Homo sapiens: one gene and its partners. The protein of the gene in region 1 interacts with the protein of each later gene in a pairwise test. Each region holds a gene or a part of one and is shown in the gene's direction. Other genes may lie near its edges. The genes, in order: SLC35B4, RHBDL2, CREB3L1 and SLC18A1.

Region 1 (7,026 bases):
ATCAATCAAAGCAAATTAAATTGTGTCTGCATATTTAGCAAATCCTTTTGTGCAGAAAGACTATATGTTTAAATTTCTCCATTCCCTGTTGTTGAGGAAAGGATGCTGGCTCCATTGTTTGCTTTGTCTGTGATGGCCCTCAGACCCTATAAGGGCAAGAACCATAATTTGGGGGTTAATATCCTGCCATACAAGGTGAAGTGGTCAAGAAGCACTGTATACATTTAACTTAAGTCTAACTTGCTTTTCTTTGTATTGCTGTCAAACAACCTGTACGACTTTTAATCATTGTAAAGCTACTCTAATTATTCTATAATGTTTTTGCACTTACATTTATCTGACCTGTTTCTTTCCATAGCACGCCCTTCCACTTCCGGGTTTCGTCTTCTTGGCTTCTGATATTTATGACCATGCAGTTCTATTCAATAAGTCTGGTGAGTTTGGGGTTAGACAGTAGAATTACCTGACAGTTTCTGAGGCAGAGTCTCAGTTTTACTCTTGACTTGACCTCGGCCTTTTTCATAATCCTATTCAAATCATGTGTTCCTTTCGAAAATGTCTCCATTCCACTTTCCAGTCATTGCAGCAGCAAAAGCTTTTACAGGGGTTTCTCAATTATTTACAAATGAAGTAAAAGAATATCTTCGAGTTTTCCATTTTGCTTTGGAATTTGTGTGTTTGCATTTGAATGTGAAATGTTTGATGTTTTGAGAATGCAAATGAATACTTACAGCACACTGCAGAGACTGGAGCCCTGCGAAGTTGGGCAGCCGTCCAGCTCTCTCAACTGCTGTTTATCCTTCTCTGCCATGAAAGGCAGAGCTGCTCACAGATCCAGCCCAAGCTGCCATGGAGCAGAGCAAGAGGGGAGCTCAATGATGACAAGGTTTTTCTCCTAGTTACAGATGAGACAGGCAGCAGATGAATAAGCAAAATTAGTTTCAAGCGTCTAGTGTAAGTTAGCTGTTACTTTTTAAACTGGCCAGTTAATAAATTAGCTATAGATTGTCAGTTAACTTGAAAGGGATCACTTGTATGATCTGATTATCTACTAACAGAGTATAATATAGACACATTGAACACACAAGGAACAAATAAACGTTTTTAAAATCAAGGCTTTATGTTGCACACACCTCAAATGCTTAAGTGCATTTTGTAGAATGACAGTAGGTGCTCAGTAAACATTTGTTTGCTATCTGAGCATGAGTTGTGAAGTTATGACTATTCTCTGCATTTATAGTGTTGCCTCTCCCATTTGCCCCATCCCCCAAAAAATGTGAAGGTAGTGTGTAAGAGTTTGTAAGGCTCTGAATTACTCAAATAATCATTTCTTCATATTAACACAACAGTTTTTAAGATCTCTGAGAAGTCCCACGTAGCAAAGGGCTATTGAAATAAAAATGTTGTCAAATTCCATGTGATTGATTTAGTTGTTAGAATGCTGCTTCTAAAAATCACAGGGCTAGGTATTTATGATAAAATGTTTTACAGAATCTGCCTTCAACTTCTCCAGAATCATTTCCAAGTTAAAGATACATTTTCCTTCTCTTGCTTTCCTTGAGATTAAGTTTCTGAGATCCGTGAATTTTCCAAGAGAGCTAAATATCTGTCAAAATATTTTAAGTGATATTCATTGTCTCTTTCCTTCAGAGATTCAGTGTATCTCTGAAGTTATTAAAAAGTAATCACGTTTGTTAACTTCCTTTTCATTTCAATACTTGCTAAGGATATCAAAGATAATAGAATACCAGATTATTGGCATTGCCCACTGATCCAGAACTAAGTTTCAAAAATTAGTCTTTATGTGTATGCGTGTGTATGTATATATGAGACATTTTATTCGTGAAAGAAAATTAATATTTCTTACCAGATCTCAGCATCATTGTATCAGAATTTCTTAAATTATGCTGTATAATTCAAAACCTGAAAAAAATTTAGTAATACAAAAAAACTGAGCCATTGAGGATTTCTATGTCTGTATTCTCTTTCATCTTATTTCCTCCCACAAATTTACTGTGCAAGTGTCATTATATAAAGCTAACATAAGAGTGAGAGTGTGTGTGTGTATGTGTCTTTTAATAGAGACAGGACCTCCCTGTTGCCCAGAATGGTAGATTGGTCTCGAGCTCCTGGGCCCAAGGGATCCTCCTGCCTTGGCCTCCCAAAGTGCTAGGATTACAGGCGTGAGCCACTACTCCTGGCCTAAAACTAATGTAAGAATATATTTAAAGTTATTCACAGTTCCATCAACCTGGACATCTGCCAATTTTATTTTTATTGATTTTCTTCTAGACCATGTCTGTTTACAGAGATTCTTACATAGCTGTAATCCTTGTGTGGATATAATTTTATATTTGTTTTTTACTTTTTTTCTGAGTTTTTTTTATGTGGCTATAAAATCTCTATGATTTTTGTTTTTATCAAATGTACAATGCCTCCTCTAATGAAAGTGCCTTTGTTTATGTAGCCATTGCACCATCATTGGGCATTTGATTTTGATTCAGAGTTATTCTTTATTATGTATAGTACTTTAATGAGTGCAGAACCTTTTTCTTCCTTTGAATTAAACTAGGATTAATTCTGAAGGATGGGTAGGAATACTTTTATAGACCCTTAATAAGGATTATGAAATTGATTTTTTTAAAGAATGACGCCAAGTTATACTGCCACCAACCTGTGGCTGCCAGTTCCATTACCAACTTGCCAGATTAAGATATTATTTATACATTTTGAATTGGCTAGGCGCAGTGGCTCAAGCCTGTAGTCCCAGCATTTTGGGAGGCCAAGGCAGGCGAATCACTTGAAGTCAGGAGTTCAAGACCAGCCTGGCCAACATGGCGAAACCCCGTCTCTACTAAAAATACAAAAATGAGCCAGGTGTGGTGGTGTGTGCCTGTAGTCCCAGCTACTTGGGAGGCTGAGGCACAAGAACCACTTGAACCTGGGAGGCAGAGGTTGCAGTAAGCTGAGATCATGCCACTGCACTCCAGCCTGGATGACAGAGTGAGACTCTGTCTCAAAAATAAATTAATAAGTTTTGAATTGCTAATTTTGTAGCTATAAAATGGTACAGTCTTATTTACTTTGGAATTCTGTAATTACTAGTGTGATTGAACATACTTCCAAACAGTAGTTGCTAGCCGCCTTTCCTCTTGTGTTGAGTTGTTAAGGCTGTCTATATCATTTTATCATTTTCAACTTTTCTGTGCTTCACAGTCTTTCTTTGTAAAGTGAGGTACTATTCAGGCAAATGGTAAAACACTTCCTTAAAAATTAAAACTATTATTTGTTTTAAGAAACCAATTTAATGACTTTAGTGGCTGCTATAGCCTGGAGTCAAGGCAAGTAAAGTGATGCGTGATCCAATTCTATTTGCAAGGAAGACAATGTTGCTGTTCCTATTATGTTCAGTCTGTATTACCCTGTTCAAAAGATGAAAAATTCAGCTGTGAAAAAGCAATATGGCTATATCCTCTTGTAACCTCTACAGAGTTATATGAAATTCCCGTCATCGGAGTGACCCTGCCCATCATGTGGTTCTACCTCCTCATGAACATCATCACTCAGTATCCTTTGGACTGTGCCGTCACCCTTATGTCATCATCAGGTTCTTTTGGCACAGGAATGGTCATTCTTTTCTTCTAACAGTGTGTTGACTTGAATATGATTTTCGCTGGATTTATTCTGCGGTAAGCTGGAGACAGAGACCAATTCAGGGAACTCCTTGTAGAGGGCAGAAGAGATGCTAGTGGTGTAGTAGGTCAGTAAGGCACAGGGCAGCAGGAGGAAGTGCTCTGAGTGGAAGTGTAGGAGTCCATTGATTGATAGTGGCGGGTGTGGTGGCTCACGCCTGTAATCCCAGCACTTTAGGAGGCCGAGGCGGGCAGATCACTTGAGGTCAGGAGTTTGAGACCAGCCTGGCCAACATGGTGAAACCCCCTCTCTACAAAAATACAAAAGTAAGCCAGGCATGATGATGGGTGCCTATAATCCCAGCTACTCCATAGGCTGAGGCAGGAGAATCGCTTGAACCCAAGAGGTGGAGGTTGCAGTGAGCTGAGATCATGCCATTGCACTCCAGCCTGGACAACAGAGTGAGACTCCATCTCAAAAAACAAACAAAGAACTACTGTATAGCATAAATCATCTGTGATTTGTACCTGTGATTTTTTGGTGTCCTAAGATATTTCCAGTGATCACAAGCTGCTGCAAAGTCCTGAAAGAAATTTCAAATTACCAGCTACTTAGGAGGCTGAGGTGGGAGGATCGCTCAAGCCCAGGAGATCGAGGCTGCAGTGAGCTTGATCACTCCACTGCACTCTAGCTTGAGTAACAGAACAAGACCCTGTCTCAAAAAAAAAAAGAAATTTCAAAGTAATCAAGTTTTCGTTTTTTAAAATGGTTATTTCGAATGACCTTACTTTCATTATAAAAATAATTATGTCTTTGAAATAGTGAAACGAATCGAGATTGACCTCATTCCTCTGAAGTCAGCTCCTAGATTTGCCAGAGTCCCTTTCTGGAGGAGGGGATAGAAGGGCTGGAGGCAAGATAAATAAAGGTGAATGGGATCACCCTTACCGAGAGCGTCACCCTCTGTCATTATCTTGGAGGTGCCTGTCATTGTAACCATAGGAAGACTCCAACATAAGAATAATTGGGGGTTTTTTGGCGGTTTCAAATTGGTACCCATAAATGGAATGGCAGGACAGGAGTTGTTCTGCAGGTTCTCCCCAGGAGGAGCCTCAGAGCTGCCGTAGCGGACCTTCATGTTTTCTTAGAATATGAGAAGTTAAACCAGGGACCATGCCAGAAGGTTCTCTCACTGATCCCCCAAGTACAGTCTACAGAAAACTACCTTGACTCCACTCCTCCAGGTACGTGTGCATCCGGGGTGTGTTTATCCTCACCACAGAATGCGCCTCCCTCACCGTCACGCTCGTCGTGACCCTACGCAAATTTGTGAGCCTCATCTTTTCCATCTTGTACTTCCAGAACCCCTTCACCCTGTGGCACTGGCTGGGCACCTTGTTTGTCTTCATTGGGACCTTAATGTACACAGAGGTGTGGAACAACCTAGGGACCACAAAAAGTGAGCCTCAGAAGGACAGCAAGAAGAACTGAGGCCTGTCTGGAGTACGTAGACCAGTGTCGTCGTGAGGGTGGGACCCTGTGAAGGTCTGACCACCGTTTCGCTTTTGTTAATGCCGAGCTACCCGCAGTGCTGAGCCAGCCGTGCAAAAGGAAATCTTCAGGAGGGGACTTCTCACGTTGCTCAGACTGACACATGTAGACTAAATAGAAACCCCTCAGCCCTAAAATAGAAAAAAGAACAGTTCTGGACTATTGAACAGCCCATTCATTTATTTCTGTTTTGTTTACCGACATATTCAGTATTATTCTTGTTTTCTGAATTCTGAGTCTCCTGAACAAAAGGCTTACTATCCATGGTCTTGGAAAAGATTGTCCCTTCTCTTGCTGTTGTAATGCATCTCTGCTACAGCAGTCATTGTCATCCTGTGACCTTATCCCTTTTGTCTCCCATCACCTTTTCCTTCTTCAGCAGCACCTCACAGTCAGTCAGACGCTGCAGGCACCACTATCACCAGGAGTGGCCAAGTAAACCGAGACACCAGTAACAGCAGGGCTGGACTTCCTCCAGCGTTTTGGGAAGGAAAGAGATGTTCCCCTGAGCTGATTCCCAGTGACAGTGCAGCAAGACTAGTGGGACTCCTCTTTCCCACATTTTGCTTTTTTTTTTTTCTATGCAAAAGTCAGATGCTTCTATCCATTGCTTTCTGTGATTAGGGCGGCCCTGCAGCATATCTCACAGCAGACACAGTGTTCATAACAAAGAAAGGTTGTGCCGGGCACGGTGGCTCACACCTGTAATCCCAGCCCTTTGGGAGGCTGAGGTGGGTGTATCACTTGAGGTCAGGAGTTCAAGACCAATCTGGCCAACATGGTGAAACCCCATCTCTACTAAAAATACGAAAATTAGCTGGGTGTGATGGCGCATGCCTGTAATCCCAGCTACTTGGGAGGCTGAGGCAGGAGAATCACTTGAACCCGGGAGATGAAGGTTGCAGTGAGCTGAGGTCGTGCTACTGCACTCCCGCCTGGGTGACAGAGTGAGACTCTATCTCAAAAAAAAAAAAAAAAAAGAAAGGTTGTTATGGACTGGACACCCCTGAAGCCCATTGCCTAGGCCACAGTGGTGACGGCAGGATGGCCCTGCTCAGCACCGCAAGAGCCATGGCTGTCCCTGTTGGCCCAGCCGGGCACTCACAGGGCAGAAGGGTGGGTCTCAAGTGGGAGGATAAGGCTTCACCACCAGGAGATTCCCCTCTGCCCGATGACTCTGTTAAGAGTCACGACCCATCAAGGGAATGCATAGATGGAGATATATAGTGTGTGATGTGTAAATCAGGTCAAACCTCAACGACAATTGAAAGTTGTTATTGTCCTATGAGGTATCTTAGCATTCTCGATGGGTATTGAGGATGGTTGGATGTGCTTTATTGTGTGTGGAAACATGCCTCTCTTTGCTAATCATTTCAGAGGTCCAGTTTTCCTTTCACTGGACAATCTTGAATAGGAGGAACGCTGTTGCTGTAATATGCGTAGCTTCTGTGTGCTCTTGTGTAGTCTGTGTGTGATCAAAGGGCACGGAAGTGGCTGCACTTTCACATCCCTTTTCTTTACTTAGCTGGAACCTTACATACCAGTACATGCTCCTCTGTAAGCAGCTGAACTCACCGGCCACTTCTCTGTTTGCCTATAGACAAAGACTGTGTGTGTGTGTGTGTATGTATGTGTGTGTGTGTGGTGCACACATTGTGTTCTTAAACTGAGACGTGGCTCTGCAGGTCTCCTGGGCTCATTCCATGGTGTGGTATGTTTATTCCACTGTCCAGAGCTATTCTCTGATGGATTTGAGCAACAGCAGTGGAGATAAATGTCCTAGAGTCACCAGGTCGCTTGGAGAAGTCATTTAAGCTGCCTCGGGTTTTTGTTACTTAAAAT
Region 2 (7,026 bases), on another chromosome or scaffold:
TGTAGAGGAGACAGTTATAATACAAAGAAGACATTGATGCTCTAGATGCAAACAGAGGTTGCTGATGGAACTAAGAAGGGCATTTAATTCTACCATGCATCCTCGGTGCCTAACACAATGCTAAGCATGTGGTAGATGCTCAGTAAGGCTTTGCAGAGGAGTTGTAAAGGACAGAGTCTTTTAGTTTTGTTTTTCTTTAATTAAAAAATTTTCTTTTCTTTTCTTTAACTTAATCCCAAATGTGATAGTAAGGAACAGAGTCTTAAAGGGGGTGTTAATACTTCCCTGGGACAACAAATGGGGAGTGTGGGAGGATGTTCTAGCAGAGGGAGGAGCTCATGAAAAGACCTCATGGAGAGTGGGAGCTGGAACTGCTAGGGGCTCAGTGTGGCTGGGGCATAGGGTATATTTGGGGAAATGGAAAGAAATGAAGGTGGATAAATAGGCAGGGTTCAGGTCATGAGGTCTTTCTGTGCCTCGTTAAGGAATCTAGGCTTTAAACCAAAGACATTGGATACCCATTGAAAAGATTTTGGCTGGGCGCGGTGGCTCACGCCTCTAATCCCAGCACTTTGGGAGGCCGAGGCGGGCGGATCACAAGGTCAGGAGTTCGAGACCAGCCTGACCAATATGGTGAAACCCCACCTCTACTAAAAAAAAAAAATTAGCTGGGCATGGTGGCGTGCACCTGTAGTCCCAGCCACTCTGGAGGTTGAGGGAGGAGAATCGCTTGAACCCAGGAGGCAGAGGTTGTAGTGAGTCAAGATTGTGCCGCTGCACTCCAGCCTGGGCAACAGAGTGAGACACTGTCTCAAAAAAAAAAAAATTAGCAATGAGAATGACACTACCTGATTTGCATTTCAGAAGTGAGGCTGATGTGTAGGGGCCTAGGATATGAAGACGCCAAGGTTTTCAGGCCTGATGGGTCCCCACCTATCTATGAAAATTAGTCTTCCTTTTTAAGACTTCAGCATGGTTTGTTCATGAAGGATCTCTTGAGTTGGCCTGTTCCTGATGACTGGTACTTTGCCCTCAGCTGTATACTGGGTCACAGTGAATCTGTTCCTCCTAATAAAAGTTTGGAAATTTATAAATAGTTTCCTTTTGTATAATCTGGAATAAGTTCAAGGATACTACTTGCAATACCTTGTGCTTTCTTATGCCAGAGAGCTAGAGATGGAGGTGTAGAAGGGTTTCCAGGAATTATATCTAGCTCTGAGTGTGCCCAGTGAGGGTGTGTCAAACTAGCCAGTGGTCCTGGAACTGGGGATGCGGGGGCACAGATAACATTAAAAGAGTCCATTTCCAGATTCTCAGCTTCTGCAGGGACTCTTGCCTAAAAGTCATCTGCTTGTCTGGATTCTTTTAAGTTCTCCTTTTCAACTCTGTTTTCATTGTTTCTCTTCTTTGGCTTTATAAGAAAGTTACACCTCTGTCCATCCCAAATTCATTGAACAAGGTCCATTGTTCAAAAGGACAGTTAGAGAATGCTGTGTTCCTGAGAGATAGCAAGTAAAGAGAGATTAGGCAGGAGAAACTAAAGGGTGCTGTGCCTCTACTACAGACTCGTAGTATTTGTTTTATTTAAGAATACTCGGCCAGGGGCCAGGCGCGGTGGCTCACGCCTGTAATCCCAGCACTTTGAGAGGCCGAGGCGGGTGGATCACAAGGTCAGGAGATTGAGACATCCTGGCTAATATGGTGAAACCCTGTCTCTACTAAAAATACAAAAAATTAGCTGGGTGTGGTGGCGGGTGCCTGTAGTCTCAGCTACTTGGGAGGCTGAGGCAGGAGAATGGTGTGAACCCGGGAGGCGGAGCATGCAGTGAGCCGAGACTGTGCCACTGCACTCCAGCCTGGGTGACAGGGTGAGACTCTGTCTCAAAAAAAAAAAAAAGAACACTCGAGAATACTCGGCCAGGCATGGTGGCTCACACCTGTAATCCCAGCACTTTGGGAGGCCGAGTTGGGTGGATGACTTGAGGTCAGGAGTTCAAGACCAGCCTGGCCAACATGGTGAAACCTCGTCTCTACTAAAAATACAAAAATTGCTGGGCACGGTGGCTCACACTTGTAATCCCAGCACTTTGGGAGGCTGAGGTGGGTGGATCACCTGAGGTCAGGAGTTCCAGACCAGCCTGGCCAACATGGTGAAACCCCATCTCTACTAAAAATGCAAAAATTAGCTGGGGGTGGTGGCCAGCATCTGTAATCCCGGCTATTCGGGAGGCTGAGGCAGGAGAATTGCTTGAACCTAGGAGGCGGAGGTTGCAGTGAGCTGAGATCGCGCCATTGCACTCCAACTGGGTGACAAGAGCAAAACTCCATCTTGAAAAAAAAAAAAAAACCCAAAAAGCAAAAAACCAAAAATTAGATGGGTATGGTTGCATGTGCCTGCTGTAATCCCAGCTACTCAGGAGGCTGAGGCAGGAGAATTGCTTGAACCTGGGAGACAGAGGTTGGAGTGAGCCAAGGTCATGCCACTGCATTCCAGCCTGGGCAACAGAGTGAGACTCCATCTCAAAAAAACCCCCAAAAACCAACAAACAAAAAAGAATACTTGTTTATTCAACCTGAGGAAGCTGATTAAGTAAAGCCAGAAAATAAAACATAAAATAAAAATAAAGAAATAAAAATATTTGTTTAGGCTGGGCACAGTGGCTCATTCCTCCAATCCCAGCACTTAGGAAGGTCGAAGTGAGAGGATCACTTGAGCCCAGGAGTTTGAATCCAGCCTGGGTAATGTGACAAGACCTCGTCTCTACAAGATTTGCTGGGCGTGGTGGCATGTGCCTGTGGTCCTAGCTATTTGGGAGGCTGAGGTGGGAGGATATCTTGAGCCCAAGAGGTCGAGGCTTCAGTGAGTTGGGTTTGCATCACTGCACTCCAGCCTGGGCAACAAAGCAAGACCCTGTCTCAAAAAACACCCAAATAGGGCCGGGTGTGGTGGCTCATACCTGTCATCTCAATACTTCAGGGGGCCAAGGTGGGCAGATCGCTTGAGCTCAGGAGTTCGAGACCAGCATGGGCGACATGGCTAAACCCTGTCTCTACAAAAAAATACAAAAGTTAGCCAGGTGTGGTGGTACACACCTGTAGTCCCAGCTACTTGGGAGGCTAAGGTGGAAGGATAGCTTGAACCCGGGAGGCAGAGGTTGCAGTGAGCTGAGATCATGCCACTATACTCCAGCCTGGGTAACAGAGTGAGACCCTGTCTCAAAACAAAACAAAACGAAAAATTTGCTCAATGCTAATTATGTGCCAGACACTCTTCTAAGAATTTTACAGATAATAAACTAATTCAATACTGATACCGAATCTATAAAGTAGATATTTACCACCCTCCTTTTACAGATGATGCTCCCAAGGCACAAAGAGGTTTAATAAGTTGCCCAAGGTCACAGAGGTGTCAAGTGGTGAAATCAGAATTTGAATTCAGACACCTTTGAATTCCTCTAGAATTTGTGTTTTAGCCATTATGCTATATTAAACTTAAGAGCTTTAGCTCTTTATTTATGTGTTATAAAATTAGAATTGAGACATGAGCCAGTTGTCATGGGGATGCAAATTAATGCATTTATGGAACCTTTTAAAAATAAAGGTAGATTTTCTTATGGACAGAAAATCTCTTTGATTTGGCTAATTGGTTTGACAGTGAGGACAGGCTTTGCCAACTGGATTATGTGGTAGACATTTTCCATAAACTGAACAAGTGAAATCTGTAGCTCTAAGGTTTGGATGAAAATGTATTTAAAACATGTCTCTAACAAAGACTATGACAAAAAATTTGATCTTGGAGCCGATTTTAACTTGTAAAAAATAATTGTAGTTATTAACTTAAAAATGTATGAGACAGAACAGAGCTTCTTTAAAAAAATTTTTTTTTTTTTTGCGACTGAGCCTAGCTTTGTCACCCAGGCTGGAGTGCAGTGGCATGATCTCAGCTCACTGCAACTTCTGTCTCCTGGGTTCAAGTGATTCTCCTGCCTCAGTCTCTCAAATAGCTGGGATTACAGGTGCCTGCCACCACACCCAGCTAATTTTTTTGTATTTTTAGTAGAGACGGGGTTTGACTGTGTTGGCCAGGCTGGTCTCAAACTCTTGACCTCGTGATCTGCCCGCCTCGGCCCCCCAAAATGCTGGGATTATAAGTGTGAGCCACCGCGCCCAGCCATTTTTTTTTTTTTTTTGAGACAGTCTTGCTCTGTCACTCAGGCTGGAATGCAGTGGCGCGATCTCTGCATTGCTCACTGCAACCTCCACCTCCCGGGTTCAAGCGATTCTCCTACCTCCACCTCCGAGTAGCTGGGATTACAGGTGCCCATCACCCCTCCTGGCTAATTTTTTTGTATTTTTAGTAGAGACGGGGTTTCACTATGTTGGCCAGGCTGGTCTCGAACTCCTGACCTCACGATCTTCTGGCTTCGTCCTCCCAAAGTGCTGGGATTACAAGTGTGAGCCACCCTGCCGGGCCATTTTATTTTTATTTATTTATTTATTTTTGAGACAGTCTTGCTCTGTCATCCAGGCTGGAGTGCAGTGGCACAATCTCGACTCACTGCAACCTCTGCCTCTTAAGTTCAAGCGATTCTCTTGCCTCAGCCCCCTGAGTAGCTGGGATTACAGGCACCCGCCATAACGCCTGGCTAATTTTTTGCATTTTTCATAGAGATGGGGTTTTGCCATATTGGCAGGCTGGTCTTGAACTCCTGGCCTCAAATGATCCACCCACCTCAGTTTCCCAAAGTGCTGGGATTATATGCGTCAGCCACCACACCTGACATTCTTCAAAATTTTTATGGGGATTTATGAAGACTTGTGGACACAGCACGGTGGATAACTCCTGTAATCCCAGCTCTTTGGGAGGCCAAAGGGGGTGGATCATTTGAGGTCAGGATTTTGAGACCAGCCCAGCCTACAAGTGAAAGCCCATCTCTACTAAAAATACAAAAATTAGCTGGGCATAGTGGTGGGCACTTGTAATCCCAGCTACTTGGGAGGCTAAGGCAGGAGAATTGCTTGAACCTAGAAGGCAGATGTTGCAGTGAGCCAAGATTGTACCACTGCACTCCAGCCTGGGCAACAGAGCGAGACTCTGTCTCAAAAAAAAAAAAAAAAAAAATTGTGAAGACCTGTGAGGTATGACACTGATAAACATCGCCGGCCATGTGTTTGCTGGTGGGGATGAAGTTTCTGGTTAGGTGAGGGGAAGTAGCTTATCCGTAGGTAAGCAGGGGCAGAATTGGAGCAAGGACCAGGATTTTCTGACTCCTGCAATGTCAGAGCTCTTTCCATGATACTTCCCTTTTCCTTCCTTCTCCATTCATGGGATTGTTAATTCAGCAAATACTTGCTGAGAAATATTTTCCACTTTTGTGGAGGTCATATTCTAGCAGAAAGAGACAGACAATAAATAAACTAACTATTTTTAGATAATGATAAGTGCTGGGAGAATATAAGTGGGGAAATGTAGTAGAGCATATAGGGGTGCGGGAAGGCATGGGCAGGGGAGACTTCCTAGGGACGTGCTACAGGTTATGAAGGATCAAGACCAACCTTGTGTGTATGAGTTGTAGGGAAGGGAGAGGGCTAGGTAGAAGGAACAGCAAGTACAAAGACCTTGAGACAGGAGAAGATTTGGTGTATTCCAGGAACAGAAAGACGTCCCTGTGGCTGCAGCACTGAGTCGTTGGGAGAAAGTAGTAGAAAGTGAATTCCACAAAGAAGGTAGGAGCTAGGTCATATAGGATCTTATCATTTGCCATTAGGATCCTATATCTATCCCAAAGACAATGGGAAACCATTGAAGGATTTTTAAGCCGAGAGTTAATACACTCTGATTTACGGTTTTGTTTTGCTTCATTGTTGGAGGGAGGCAGGAGTGGAAACAGAGTGAAGACTAATTTGGGAGGGTAATTTCGGGTCAGACATCAGTAATCTACTCAATGGAAGAATACAAAGATGAACAATGTGAATGGAAAGAAAGGCAGAATGGTGTGAGATGTCATTCTGTCTTCTGGTTCTGATGAGGCATGCTGGTAGCTATTACTGTGTAACAGATCACCCCAAAATTTAGTGACTCAAAACAAGAATAGGTGTGGTGGCTCACGCCTGTAATTCCAGCACTTCAGGAGGCCAAGGTGGGTGGATCGCGTGAGCTCAGGAGTTCAAGACCAGCTTCGGCAACATGGCAAAACCCCATCTCTACAAAAAATGCGAAAATTAGTTGGGCATGGTGGCGCTCACCTGTAGTCCCAGCTACTTGGGAGGCTGAGGCACAAGAGTCCCTTGAACTGGGGAGGTGGAGCTTACAGTGAGCTGAGTTCGTACCACTGCACTCCAGCCTGGGCGACAGAGTCAGACCTTGTCTCAAAACAAACAAATAACAGAAAAACCAAGAGCCATTTTATTTCTTCATAATTATGCAAGTCAGGGATTTGGGCAGGGTTCAGCTGAGCAGTTCTTCTCCATGTAGTCATCAGCTAGGGTCATTCACAGCTGTATTCAACTGGTGGATGAGCTGGGCTGGTAGGTCAAGAAGGTTCCATTCATAGGTCTGGCACCTTGGTGCTTTTCTTTATTTCATTTTCACATGACTTTTTCTTTTTTTTTTTTTAAATCAGGCAACCTCCTGAGCCAGACCAGGCTCAGAGAGACTCCTACTTTTGTGCTCTTCTACATGGCCTCTCTTTCCATGTGGGCACCTTGGGCTTTCTCATAGAATGGTGGCCTCCAGGTAGTGTTAGGTTATATGGTGTTAGGCTTCAAAGAGGAAGCATTCCCAAAGGAGCAAAAGTGGGGACCACATAGCTGTTAAGGCCCGGCCCTGCAAAGTATCCAGCATAGCTTCTGCCACGTAGTATTGGTCAAAACCAGTCACAGGGCTGGCCCAGACTTAAGGAGAGGAGAAACAAACCCAAACCATATCTCTCAGTGAGAGGAATGGCAAATTATATGCTCCGTCTTTAGTCTACCATCCTTGGCTTCTGGGAACTGAATAGCCCTAACCATGCTGATGGTGCTGAC
Region 3 (6,274 bases), on another chromosome or scaffold:
CGTCTCTACTAAAAATACAAAAATTAGCCGGCATGGTGGCGCACGCCTGTAGTCTCAGCTAGTCAGGAGGCTAAGGCAGGAGAATCACTTGAACCTCGGAGGCGGAGGTTGCAGTGAGTCGCAAACGCACCACTGCACTCCAGCCTGGGTGAAAGAGCGAGACTCTGTCTCAAAACAAAACAAAACAAAAAACCTAACAAAAACAATAGCTACCATTTACTAGACACTCACTACATACCAGGCACTGTGCCAAACAGCTCCTTCTTATCAGCTCAGGGTGCTGGGGGTGCCAGGGAGGGAAGGTCAGTGAAACTGTGGCAGGTGTCGGTTAAGCAAAAGAAGGCTGGCATCTGTGCAGCTGGGGGCAGGCCTTCCCTCCTCCAACCCCCTTGGCCAGGAGCATCACAGGGCAGGCCTGAGCTTCCACAAGGTGACCCAGCCAGTCACCATGAGGCAGGCCCCAGGCGCCAGGCCACTCTGCAGAGGAGCCACGCAGGAGGTGACCTTTCCTATCTTGACTGAAACGGGCACCTGGCGTGGAGGCCAAGTCTGGAGCCAGCCCCCTAGGAGAGCTCCAGGAGGCAGAGATGCCTGCGGGGTCAAAGCCTGCCAGCTGACTGCTGTGCCCTCCTCAGGACCCTGCTCCAGCAGCTGCAGAAACTCCAGACTCTGGTCACCAACAAGATCTCCAGACCTTACAAGATGGCCGCCACCCAGACTGGGACCTGCCTCATGGTAGGTGTGGCTCCCTCCACCACAGACCCACAGGAGGAGAGTTCTTCCCAAGGCTGGCTTTTTCCAGGGTTGGGCAGAGCTTTAAGGATCGGTAACATCGTGGGCAGCGTCCCAGGGTACACCATCCTGGCGCCTGGTGGGCTGGTTCTAGCAGACTCCAGACTCCTTCTCCAAGCCCATGGTGCCTTCTGCCTCACACCGGTCCCCGACTGGTTAACACAGTGTAGATGTGTAGGTGACTCCAGTGGCCCCAGCTAGGGGACAGCTGGGCAGGTTCCTTGAGGAGGCGGCTTCCACAGGCCTTGTGCAGGGAAGGGCTTGGGGAGACTCAGGGAAGAACGGACATGGTTCTTTCTGGAACAGATGGCAGTGAAAAGGCTGAGGAAACCCCTGGAAACCCGGAAGGCTCCCAGGGCGTGTTTCAGACCTCTTCCAGTCCCTCTTCTATCTTCTTCTGGAAATGGCCAGTCTCTTGCCGCCTGGCTCAGCATGCCCCGGCCCTCCGAGACCCTCGAGCTGTCAGGCAGCAGAACCAGGCTATGGGCAGGGGTAGTGTGGGCTCCGTGGCTCTCAGCACCTCCCGCTAGCCAGGCTCCTCAGAATCCTGCTGAGAACGTGATGTGGCGGTGTGTCCCCCTCCCTCGTCCCAGCCCCAAGCCCCACCTGCACCTATTCCTTCCTTTCCTGATTCCTCTACCCCGTAAGGGGACTCCACATTGGCCACTTCCCTCTTACTTCTAGCACTGCCTGTGGCGACCCCCCTACAATGGGCTGGGATGGCCTGGGCTGTCCCTGCCTTCCCCAGAGAGGATAGGAGACCCCACATGTAGGAGGGAGTGGTCGACTGGAGCAGCTGCTTCCTTGGGAAAACGCTAAGACTTTTGTGCCTGTTGGTTTGGGAGAGGAGGAGTGGGGTGGTCAGGGCCGTGGCCCCTCCTTACCCCAGATCTGATGCCACTCTCTCTTTGCTACCAGGTGGCAGCCTTGTGCTTTGTTCTGGTGCTGGGCTCCCTCGTGCCCTGCCTTCCCGAGTTCTCCTCCGGCTCCCAGACTGTGAAGGAAGACCCCCTGGCCGCAGACGGCGTCTACACGGCCAGCCAGAGTGAGTGCCCGCCTGTCATGCCAGCTCCCTGGGCTGAGGCTGCCCTGCCCCAGCCCCAGTGTCCAGGCAGAAGCCAGACATAAGAGAGAAGCCAAGTGTGGGGTCAGCATTATCTCATTTTGCCTCATTTTCCAGATGGGGAAACCGAGGCCCAAAGAGAGTCTATGCTTTGCTCAGTGTTTGTGGTAGAATTGGGACTAAAATACAGAGCTCCCGATGCCCAGCCTAGCTCCCAGAGAGCTCAGGAGTGGCTTGCAGGAGGTGGGTTTAGGGGATAACAGGAATGTTCCAGCCCTGGGCCCCATGCATTATGGTGCCAGTGCTTATGGGGCATCTGCTAGGCACCATCAGTATCTCATGATAGGGACAGCAAGTGAGTTTCAGCTCAAAAGCCATTTCCAATAAGGTGGTGGTAGCTGCCTGAAACACTGAGTTAAGAAGGACCCTGGGCCGGGCGCGGTGGCTCATGCCTGTAATCCCAGCACTTTGGGAGGCCGAGGCGGTGGATCACCTGAGGTCAGGAGTTCGACGCCAGCCTGGCCAGCATGGTGAAACCTCGTCTCTACTAAAAATACAAAACTTATCTGGGCATGGTGGCATGTGCCTGTAGTCCCGGCTACTTGAGAGGGGTGAGACAGGAGAATCACTTGAAACTGGGAGGCAGAAGTTGCAGTGAACCAAGATCACGCCACTGCAGTCCAGCCTGGGTGACAGAGTGAGACTCCATCTCAAAAAAAAAAGAAGGATCCTGAGGCACCATTCAGAATTGACAGGAAGGAGTGTCATGATCCACTGATAATGTCTACCATGGACAGAAGAAGGGTAGCGGTGGTGTGGGTTCAGATATCTACTGTTTCCAAGGGGGATAGTAAACGTACAGTGGTTAGGAGCATGGGGATGTCAAGTCCATCGTAACTGGCACTGCCACCTGCTGTGTGACCAGGGGCATGTGTCTTAAGCTTTCATTTCTTCATCTAGAAAATGGGAGTGGCAATTTTGCACTTACTGAGCCATGGCTGTGAGACAGTGCATGAAATAGCACAGTGTCTGTGCTTATGAAATGAGCACACTCAGTCTCTTAGAGCTCACGGAGGAGAGAATAGCTACATCACAGTAGCTGGCAAAGGGAGAACCAGGGTAGGGCCCAGCAAAGAAGAGTGTGGATTTCAGACGCAGAGAATCCTTCAGGTGGACCCACAGAGGAACTTCCTGGCTGTCCCTCATCACTTACCAGTCAGTCACTTACCAAGAACCACGTGTCTGGCAGGACAGGAGGAGGAAGAGGAAACAGATGGGAGGTCAGAGGAGGGAAGATTAAGGAGTGAGTTTCAAGAAGGAGGGATATAGCAGGGAGGATGAGCTAGACGTTGAGGGCCTTGAGGGGAGGAAGCTGGTGTGGGGAGGGTTAGGGAAAGAGGAAGTAGAGACAGGGAGAGTGAAAGCTCCTCCCCGGACACGTGCAGGCTGAGGAGGAGAGAACGGGGTGGTCACTAAAGGCGGGTGGGCAGCAGCAATGCAAGGTCTGGAGAGCCATGTGTCTGCTTTTCCAAGGCCACAGAAGCCACTGGAGAAAAAGGAGTGGAAAGAGAGCTGGGGTTGATGGATAAAGCCACAGTGAGAGGAGGCAATGAATGAGCCCCTTGGAGGGAAGGCAGTGGGTTTTAGGCCCAGGACCTGGGCTGGGTGGAGAGGAAGACACATCCCAGCAGGCAGATGGCTTTGGAGCAGGCTGGTTTGCAGAGCTGGCGCACTGCGCAGTTCCAGGGACCTCTGTTCACACAGACTATGAGGTCATGGCTGCAGAGCCGGAGGGGCAGCAGATCCCAGGGCCAGGCAGACCTGGGTTCGCATCCTCCCTTCAGGGAGGACAATTTCCCTGAGTGCCTGGAACTTCAGCTGCCTCCTCTGGGAAGCGGGGCTAAAGAAACCTCATTCCCTAGAGTTTCTCTAAGATTTTAACCACTCTACTTAGGTCTATGGGCCTTGGATAATGCCTAACAAATGATGGGTGTCCAACAAATGTTTGTTTTCCTTCTCTGAAGGGCAAATTAGGATCTAGAATGGGGAAGAGACTTATTCCAGGTCTCACAGAAAGTAAGTGGTGGACTGGCCGGGTGCGGTAACTCACTCCGGTAATCTCAGCACTTTGGGAGGCCAAGGTGGGAGGATCACTTGAGGCCCAGGAGTTCAAGATCAGCCTGGCCAACATGGTGAAACCCCGTCTCTACTAAAAATACAAAAAGTAGCCAGGTATGGTGGCACACACCTGTAGTCCCAGCTACTCGGGAGGCTGAGGCAGGAGAGTCGCTTGAGCTCGGGAGGCGGAGATTGCAGGGAGTCAAGATCCTGCCATTGCACTCCAGCCTGGGCGACAGAGCAAGACTCTGTCTCAAAAAAAAAAAAAAGGGAGATAGAGCAAGTAAGTGGTGGAGGTTAGAACACAGCTCCCAGATGCCCAAACTCAGTACCCTCTGCTAGGAAGAGGTGACTTTTCTGAGTATTTCCTGAACACAGTTTCAATCACTTCCCCTGTATTACCTCATTTAAACCTCTCATTTACATGAGGTTGGTCCTAGTATCCCTATTTTACAGAAGAGCACACTGAGGCTCAGAAAGTTTAAAGCAAAGTGTGTGGCTTACCTGAGGTCACACATCCGGGAAGTGTCAGAGCTGGGACTCAGATCCAGGGCCTGCGTCCTTAACCACTAGGCCATGAATGTGGCCAGGATGTTGAGGGAATCTTGGGCACACCGCTCATCCTACACTCCCTCTCCAGTGCCCTCCCGAAGCCTCCTATTCTACGATGACGGGGCAGGCTTATGGGAAGATGGCCGCAGCACCCTGCTGCCCATGGAGCCCCCAGATGGCTGGGAAATCAACCCCGGGGGGCCGGCAGAGCAGCGGCCCCGGGACCACCTGCAGCATGATCACCTGGACAGCACCCACGAGACCACCAAGTACCTGAGTGAGGCCTGGCCTAAAGACGGTGGAAACGGCACCAGCCCCGACTTCTCCCACTCCAAGGAGTGGTTCCACGACAGGTGGGGTGTGTGGCCCCTTTCCCTCCTGAGGTCTCAGGCTCCACCTGCCTCCTGCCCACCCTTGGTCCCCACATTGGCCACACCCTCCCAAGGCCCCATCCCTACTTGGTCTAGATCCAGCTTGCAGAGGGTAAGAGGGTTCCTGCTGGACAGTCATCGCTGGCCTCTCTTCTCTCTCCAGGGATCTGGGCCCCAACACCACCATCAAACTCTCCTAGGCCATGCCAAGACCCAGGACATAGGACGGACCCCTGGTACCCAGAAGAGGAGTTCTTGCTCACTAACCCGGATCCGCCTCGTGCCCCTGCCTCCTGGAGCTTCCCATTCCAGGAGAAAAGGCTCCACTTCCCAGCCCTTCCTTGCCCCTGACATTTGGACTCTTCCCTTGGGCCGACCACTCTGTTCTCATTCTCCTTCCCACCAACATCCATCCGTCCTTCTCAGACAAACCACTCACTGGGTACCCCACCTCCTCTCTCATATGCCCAACACGACCACTGCCTCCCTGCCCCCACACCTGCACCCAAACAGACACATCAACGCACCCCACTCACAGACACCCCTTACCCCACCCCCACTGTACAGAGACCAAGAACAGAAATTGTTTGTAAATAATGAACCTTATTTTTTATTATTGCCAATCCCCTAAGATATTGTATTTTACAAATCTCCCTCTTCCCTTCGCCCCTCCCTTGTTTTATATTTTATGAAGTTAGTGCGGGCTTTGCTGCTCCCTGGCCCAGGAAAGAGGGACTACCTGACCCTCACCTGGCACCCCCCTGCTGCTGCCCAAGCCGCTGGGCCTTTTTAATTGCCAAACTGCTCTCTTCATCAGCTCAGCACATGCTTTAAGAAAGCAAAACCAAAAAAAAAAAAAAAAAGATGCAGCATCAACTCCTGACTTTGTGCCTTTCTTCATTGGAGGGGAGGGAAAGTAGAACCAAAGGGCAGGGGAACAACAAGGGTAGGTTGATTTTATGTTCTGGCAGGGGGTGTGGGGGTATAGGAGTATGAGAAGGCATTTTTTTTTTTTTGTAGAGGTAGGGTCTCGCTATGTTGCCCAGGCTGGTCTCAGACTCCTGGGCTCAGTCTGCCCACCATGGCCTCCCACAGTGCTGGGATTACAGGCGTGAGCCACCATGCCCAGCCTGTTCACTTTTTATTTTCCAATATTTTGTTGACTGATTTGTTATTTCCTCTTCTGTCTTTGGGCTTTATTTATAGCTTTTATATGTGTATGCTTTTATTTGAGGATTAGGAAGATAGTTTAGATAAATGTTTTTTATCTGCCTATTTAAGGAGAACCCCATGTATGTATGTATGTGTACATGAATGAATGACAAGATCTCGCTCTATTGCCCAAGTTGGAGTCCAGTGGTGCAATCATAACTCACTG
Region 4 (7,926 bases), on another chromosome or scaffold:
ACCTATGTGCATCCTCTTGTATACTTTAAGTCATCTCTGGATTACTCTTAATACCTGATACAAGGTAAATGCTATAGAAGTAGTTATCGTACTTTATTTGTTTTTTACTTGTGTTATTTTTTATGGTTGCATTGGTTTTTTTTTGTTTGTTTGTTGGTTGGTTGATTGGATTTTTGTTGTTGTTGTTGTTTTGAGACATGGGTCTCACTCTGTCACCCAGGAGTGCAGTGGCGCGATCATGGCTCACTGTAGCCTCGACCTCCTGGGCTCAAGCAGTCCTCCTGCTTTGGCCTCCCAAAGCACTGGGATTATAGATGTCAGCCACCACACCCAGCCTGTATTGTTATTTTTTATTGTTTTATTTTCCAAATATTTTTGATGTTGTGAAGGGATGCCAGTTTTGGTGGTTGGTTGGGGGTAGGGCCTGAATTTTCCTAACTGAATTTTCCTATCACTTATTTGTTGCTGAGTTTGCTACCGCTGTCCCTACAATAGAACTGTTCAATGGGGTTCCAGCTGATGTTGATTTTACTTTTTTAGAGCCTCCTATTCCCTTGGATCTGAAACCAGCACTTCCCTTGCATGTTTACAGACACGCAGTTCCCTATCTTTATGGACACATATCCACTCCTACAGGGTCCACAGTGCCCTGTAGATCATGGCCGTAAAGTATCAGCCCTGATTCCTCTTTGGCTTTGTTTTCAGAAGCCTGTGACTTCTGAACCAAAGTCAGCCTCCAATCTGAGGCTGGGATAATGACATATGCTGAATGGAAGAAGTTGGAACTGATTGTTAAAATGTTTGAACAGCACAGGAAACAGGAAGCAATGAGAAACAAAAGCACCCTCCAGCTCTGAGTCACAGGGCCGTCTCCTCTGCCAGGCCATGTCAGCCACAGCCCAGGGTACATGTAATTGGGTAATAGATATTATTTGGCCCGGAGAAAAAGCTGTCCGTCTGAGGATGTTGTATGCCAACCACTTTAACTAGAAAGATAACAGAGCCACTATCAAAGAGCCTCAAACTTCAATTTCAGTCTCAGAGAGTTCTCAACAGGATGCTCTGGCTAGAAATTATTAGTTCTTTGCAAGGGCTCGGAGTCCACTAGTATAGACTGAGCTGTTACTTTTTACTGGCAATGCTTCATTTTTAAGTTTTGTTCACTATTATTTAAATAATAAATCAAGAATCTTCCACAACTTTGCCATTGGGCCTAACCACTTACATAATCACAATGTACATAAAGTGTTGTTTTTATGTTTTTAATTGTGGCAAAATATACATGACATAAAATTTACCATTTTAACCATTTTTAAGTGTATGGTTCAGTCGTGTTAACTATACCCACCTTATTGTGCAACTGACCAATCTCCAGAAGTTTTCATCTTGCAAAACTGAAACTCTACACCTATTAAACAATCACTTCCCATTTCCCTCTTCCCTCAGACCCTGGAAACCACCATCATATTTTCTATTTCTATGAAATTGACTGTTATACTTACATCATATAAATGGAATTACATAGTATTTGTCCTGTGGTGACTGGCTTATTTCACTTAGCATAATGTCCTCAAGATTCATCCGTGTTATAGCATGGGTCATAATTTCCTTTATTCATCCATTGAGGGACATGTAGGTTGCTTTCACCTTTTAGCTATTGTGCATAATGCTACCGTGAATTTACATAAAGGTTTTTTTGTTGGTTTTTTTTTGAGACAGAGTCTCACTCTATCGCATAGGCTGGAGTGCAGTGGAGCGATCTTGGCTTACTGCAACGTCTGCCTCCGTGTTCAAGTGATTCTTGTGCCTCAGCCCCTCAAGTAGTTGGGACTACAGGTGTGCAGCACCACGCCTGGCTAACTTTTGTATTTTTAGTAGAGACAAGATTTTGTCATGTTGGCCAGGCGGGTCTTGAACTCCTGACCTCAAGTAATCCACCTGCCTCAGCCTCCCAAAGTGGTGGGATTACAGGCATGAGCCACCACGCCCAGCCCCAATTTACAAAAAGTTTTATATTCTACCTTTTTACTTTCTGTCATAATATCTGTGTGTATATACATATAATATAAATTAAATATATTATGTATAACATATTATAGAATATAAATTACATGTTGTATATGTAATCTATAAATATAAATTACATGTTATATACGTAATCTATAAATATAAATTACAGGTTATATATGTAATCTATAAATATAAATTATATATTTATTTTTATATATACAGTTTTTTCCAGTTTGATATATAGTCTTCATCATAACCTTTTTTTACATCTGTTTTAAGGGCCACATGACAGTCCTTCAAGCTCATGCACTTAAATAATTTCTACAGTTGGACATTTGAGATGTTTGTAGTTTTTCTCTAAATCCTATGACAAAAATTTTGTACCTATGATTTCCCTCCCTTCCCCCATATTTTAGCATACCTTTTTAGATAGATTCCAAGGAAGTGAAATTACTGGGTCAAAAGCAACATACATTTTATAACTTAAAAGATAAAAGATAGAAAGCCGCATTGCTTTCTAAAAGAATGGTATTTCCCTAGCTACTAACAGTGTATGTGAATTTCCATTCCACAGTACTCACAGTTTTTTTTTTTATTCTATGATTAAAGGGAGGAAGTTGAGTGCTCATTCATTTTTAATGGACAACAATTTGATTATTAATAGTGATGGGCATTTGTGAGGAGACCCCAGACTTGGCCAGCCTGTGAATACTAGCATGGTTACAGTAAACTGAAAAAATATATCTATTTGATCTAATATGTATTATCCCTATAATATATGAGTATGTATTAGAAACATGCCCAAATAGTACGTAATCCATAAATGATAGCTACTGTTATTGTTGCTGTTATTCTTATTATTGCCCAACATGTGATGATTCTTAGTCTATACCTGCTTTCCCAGGCCCTCAATTTCCCAAAATCATGATTTCCCAATTTTTGGGGGGCATCCCCAGTTAGGTGCTGTCTCGGAACATTCCTGTGAGGCTGCTCTACCCAAGCCCTCTCCCTCTAGCGCCCTCTATTGGACACAGGTACACTATGCCGGAGGCTGTCAACCCTCAGAGTTCTAACACTGTACTTAGGGTGGAGGGCATGGTGGCAGAATTGTCACCTGGACTCCAAAAAGGATACTGCCTTATGCCCAGAGTCTTGCAAATATCTTTATTAATACAGTTCCTCCATCTTTTGGCCCTAACCCCCTCATTCCCTAGAGGCTCAGGCCACAGGCCCTGCATGTAAGTGGGGGGCAGTGTGCCATGCTCCCTGTAGGGAGTGGACAGTGGCACCCCAGAGATGTCCACCTCCTAATCCTGGAACCTGTGAGTATGTTGCCTTGGTAGTCCCCTATGGTAAAAGGGACTTTGCAGATATGATTAAGGATCTTGAGATGGGGAGGTGATCTTGGAATATCTGGGTGGGCCCAGGGTCATCCCGTGAGTCCTTACAAGTGAAAGAGGGAGGCAGAAGGCTCAGAGTCAGAGGGAGAGTTGAATATGCATTGCTGCTAGCTTTGAGGGTAAAAGTGGCTAGGAGCCAAGAAATGCAGGAGATCTCTGGAAGCTGGAAAAGGCAAGGAAACAACCATCCCCCAGAATCTCCAGAAGGAATGCAGCCCTGCCGACACATTCATTTTAACCCGGTGTGATGTATTTTGGACTTCTGACCTCCAGAACTGCAAGATACTAAATACGTGTTGTTTTAAGCCACCAGATTGTAGTAATTTGTTACAGCAGCAAACTATAGCGATGAATACATTCTGCTGATGTCTTTGTTTCCTATCCCTATTTCTCGCTCTAGGTTTACATTTTAAAACTGTTTCCATCTAGGCCGCGCGCTGTGGCTCGCGTCTGTAATTCCAGCACTTTGAGAGGCCAAGGCAGGAGGATCACTTGAGGTCAGGACTTCGAGACCAGCCTGGCCAACATGGTGAAACCCTGTCTCTACTGAAAATACAAAAATTAGCTGAGCATGGTGGCATGCACCTGTAATCCCAGCTACTCAGGAGGTTGAGATTAGAGGATTGCTTGAACCCAGGTGGTGGAGGTTGCAGTGAGCCAAGATCATGCCACTGCACTCTAGCCTGGGTGACATAGCGAGACTCTGTCTCAAAAATAAAAAAAATAAAATTAAAAAACTATTTTCTTTTTTTTTAGCGTTAAATCGAAAGTTCCCTAGTTAATTCCCACAATTAGGAGGGGCCCACCAGTTCCACAAATAGGAAATCTCTGCACTGCTCTTGCTCGTAAAGTGTATTTGCTTTTTCATAAATTGCTTATGTTCTTTGAGCCACCAATGGTTTAATGTCAGAATAATATAGATCATTAGAGCCTCTCAAGATCCCACAAGGAACTGCACTTTCTCCTGTAGTTAACCATCCAGTCATCCATGCAAGAAATATTTATTGGATGCTACCATGTATCAGGCACTGAGCCAGTATTGAGATGTGAAGACACAGTGCATAATCTAAGCCTTTACAGAGGCCACAGATGTTGGGTTTTTATGGCTTGAGAACAACATACATTGTTTCTTTCCAGGAAGCTAATTGGGGTACATGGAGCCACTTTGACTAAGTAGCAAGGAACAGGAACTGCACACTGGTTCCATCTTGGCTTCCAATTTGTATTCAGACCCAGGCAAGAGTTAAAGAGTTCGATGATAGATAAGCACAGATGCAAAACAGTACAGTCCAGTGCCTCTTTGCTTAGGCTAATATCTGCCCTCTCTTTATCCTCTCCAGCCCTGCCTTCCTGCCTTTGACGCAGGGAGCTAAGGGTCTGAATGAACCCTGTTGGAGGTTGCAATTAAATCTTTGTGGACAAAGGCACACACACACACACATACACAGAATCCTCAGATAACAGGAGGCAATAAATCCAACAGCACATCCACGTTCAGAGAACAGTGTCCCTGCTGTCTTGCTAACAGCTGCCAATACCTCACTGAGTGCCTCACACCAACATGGGCTCCAAGGTAAGATTTTTCTCTCTCCGGACAAATTTAATCTTTCCTTGTGATTTGTGTCTCTGTCAGAGGATTTTGACTGTTAAGTAAAGTTTACTATTGATTTGTTGGCAAATTCCTGGTTTTGTTTGTTTTTGTTTTGGGATTTGGGTGTGTGTGTTTCTCTCTCTTTGTAGTACTTACTTCACTCACTATGTTTTTTAATTTTCCATGGCTTGTCTTTTATTCTTATCCATACATATCCTAAGTCAATTTGTATTCAGAAATACCTCCTTTATATAGAGAAATGAAGGATCTTAAGTAATTGCATGCATTTACTGGTTAAAACTTAACTGAGAATTTGGTTCACTTAGGACCTTGGTCACGTTAATATGTAGTAGTGAGAGGGTTCTTCCAGCCCTGGGCTTAGAACAGAGTACCTCAGTGTTTGGGGTACTCCCAACACCTGAGGCTGACTATTGAATTTCAGTGATAATCATTTAAAATTATTTACTTCTTTAATTACAAAAGTAGCTCATTATTGAATATTTAGAAATACACAGAAGATAACTGAAGTCATTGATTATAAATAACTGGCATTTGAGTATCTCTCTACTCTCTCAAAAATGTGCCCATATATTTATATTTAGACAATTGAGATAAAGTTGAAAACACAGTTTAATTTCCCTTTTTTACTTAACGTTATAGTAATAGTATTTTCTGTATCATTAAAATTATTTGAAAATATAATTTTTAAGAGCCGCTTAATAATCCACCATTAACATGTTTGACTTTTTTCACTAAGAAAAATAATTCTGCAATTGATCATTTTGAGTATAAGTCTTTGGCTGCATCTCTGACCTTTTTTCTTTTGTAGGATGGGTTCCTTGTAGTAGAGTTACTAAGTCAAAGAGTATACAATTTTTAGGGCCTGATAGATTTCATGATGGTAATCTATTTTAAAATTTAAATGAGTGATATTGTTGATACCACAACAGAAGCCACGTCAAAGAAAATGAAATTCTCCCCAGAAACTCTTATTACTTGAAGTTTGACAAGGTACTGTGACTTAATGCTGACTAATGATATGAAATCCTGAATAGAGAACTAATCATGAAAGTCAATATTTTATTTTCACAGATGAAGGCATCTTTCTGATCAGGGGTTTGTAGCTCAAACAAAAGAATGAGCGTGCTTCTAGAACCACAGAGCAAGGGAACATGGTAGAGGATAAGCTGGCAAGTTGAAAAGCGTGGGATTTCATCCCAGTTTGACACTAACTGTGCAACCCCAAACAAATCTCCTAACCTTCAGAGGCTCGGATTTCTTGTCTATGAGATGAAGGTTGGTCTACATCAGTGTTTCTCAGTGGGCAGCCCAAGTGACACTGTGCCACATGAAATATTTTGGGGTAGCACCTAGAACAAAGGTCATACTTTTTTTGCATGCCACATAAAATAACTTTTTGAAACATGATATCAATATCTATGTTGGTTTTAAAAATTTTTTGAGAGTTAGGGGTCTTGCTATGTAGTCCAGGCTGGACTCAAACTCCTGGGCTCAAGATATCCTCCCACCTCAGCCTCCCAAGTAACTGAGACTCCAGGCACATCCCACCATACCTGGCAGTATCTCAATATTTTAAAAGAGTGGATCTAGAGGAAAAAGATGAAGTAAATGATAGTACAGGTAGTCCTTAGATATGACATAAACCATCAAGGTGATAGGCAAATAAATGTCGGATGTTTGAAAAACACAGGGTTAAGTGATCTGTAGAGCATCTATTTTTATCTGGATTTATACCTAGCCATTAAATTCAAGGGAAATTAATGGCTAGATATAAATCCAGACATAAATAGCTAGTAAGCGATGCTTACCAGGAAGGCATTCTGGGAACCAGGTAGAGTTATTGAGATTTATAAGAAGTGAACAGTGATACAGACATGGAGATGTTTCCAAATATCATCCTACTACTTGCAACCCTTTGCACTTTTCGTTTTAATAGTGAGTTTCCTTCGTCTGGGCAGACTCCCTCCCCTCTTCCATAAAGGCTGCAGGAGACCTGTAGCTGTCACAGGACCTTCCCTAAGAGCCCGCAGGGGAAGACTGCCCCAGTCCGGCCATCACCATGCTCCGGACCATTCTGGATGCTCCCCAGCGGTTGCTGAAGGAGGGGAGAGCGTCCCGGCAGCTGGTGCTGGTGGTGGTATTCGTCGCTTTGCTCCTGGACAACATGCTGTTTACTGTGGTGGGTACGTTTGTGGGTCTTTGTGCTGAGGGTTAATTTGCTGTGGGCCCCAGCAGGCAGTGTACACCCTGCTTGAGTTCAACAGTGAATCCATCTGAGAATTTTCCTTTTTATGCTCAAAAACACACAGAGGTTGTTGGGGACTGGAAAAAAGCCCTGCAGAAAATGGAGTCTGACACTTGTCAAACACAGCTAAAAGACTCAGGAGGTTCAAAGAGCAGGAGGTCCAGAGAGGGTCTGACTGGAGAAGAGGATGGCCCGGAGCCAGAACTGGCTGTGCTTTTCTTTCTCCCCACACTGTCTTCTCAAGGTGCTAATGACTCCAAGTGCCTCTGAGGCAGCGAGATCTTCTCACAGGGGTGCCTTTCTGGACTCTGCTCTATAAAAACAGCATATTTTATTTGGATATCTGATTTAGTATCAAGACCTTGCCTTCCTTGTGGTTCTTTCCCTCAGAATCCTGCTTTTTTTAGTTGATACTCTCCTAATCATTACATTAAGTTACACCCTTGTATAAATGGGCACTAAAAGGTTTCTCCTCTTGGGTAAAACATATGTTTTTAAAAAAGGATCTTTCTGAGACAAGTTGTTAATCCAATACAATCACTTCTCATTATTCATAGTTCTGTAGTTATAGTTATGCTCTATAAAGTCGCTGCAAACACTGAATTAGTGAATACTGAATCATTGCTCCCAGGGAAACACACACACACACACACACACAC

Evidence for each region.
Region 2: the proteins of SLC35B4 (region 1) and RHBDL2 interact in binary tests that used the Homo sapiens proteins (3 or more experiments, as listed by UniProt).
Region 3: the proteins of SLC35B4 (region 1) and CREB3L1 interact in binary tests that used the Homo sapiens proteins (3 or more experiments, as listed by UniProt).
Region 4: the proteins of SLC35B4 (region 1) and SLC18A1 interact in binary tests that used the Homo sapiens proteins (3 or more experiments, as listed by UniProt).

What each region holds. Positions count from the first base shown.
Region 1 is NC_000007.14:134,292,931-134,299,956, reverse strand, and holds part of SLC35B4 (nucleotide sugar transporter SLC35B4), read left to right. Parts: intron 1-358; coding exon 359-434; intron 435-3,490; coding exon 3,491-3,566; coding exon of another isoform or gene 3,567-3,645; exon of another isoform or gene 3,646-4,877; coding exon 4,878-5,124; 3' UTR 5,125-7,026. UniProt on the Homo sapiens protein: Antiporter that transports nucleotide sugars across the endoplasmic reticulum (ER) membrane in exchange for another nucleotide sugar.
Region 2 is NC_000001.11:38,931,823-38,938,848, reverse strand, and holds part of RHBDL2 (rhomboid-related protein 2), read left to right. Parts: intron 1-7,026. UniProt on the Homo sapiens protein: Involved in regulated intramembrane proteolysis and the subsequent release of functional polypeptides from their membrane anchors. Known substrate: EFNB3.
Region 3 is NC_000011.10:46,315,651-46,321,924, forward strand, and holds the end of CREB3L1 (cyclic AMP-responsive element-binding protein 3-like protein 1), read left to right. Parts: exon of another isoform or gene 1-635; coding exon 636-735; intron 736-1,710; coding exon 1,711-1,837; intron 1,838-4,613; coding exon 4,614-4,878; intron 4,879-5,059; coding exon 5,060-5,096; coding exon of another isoform or gene 5,097-5,247; 3' UTR 5,248-5,759; downstream 5,760-6,274.
Region 4 is NC_000008.11:20,180,120-20,188,045, reverse strand, and holds the start of SLC18A1 (chromaffin granule amine transporter), read left to right. Parts: upstream 1-4,909; 5' UTR 4,910-4,983; intron 4,984-6,093; exon of another isoform or gene 6,094-6,297; intron 6,298-6,958; 5' UTR 6,959-7,081; coding exon 7,082-7,205; intron 7,206-7,926.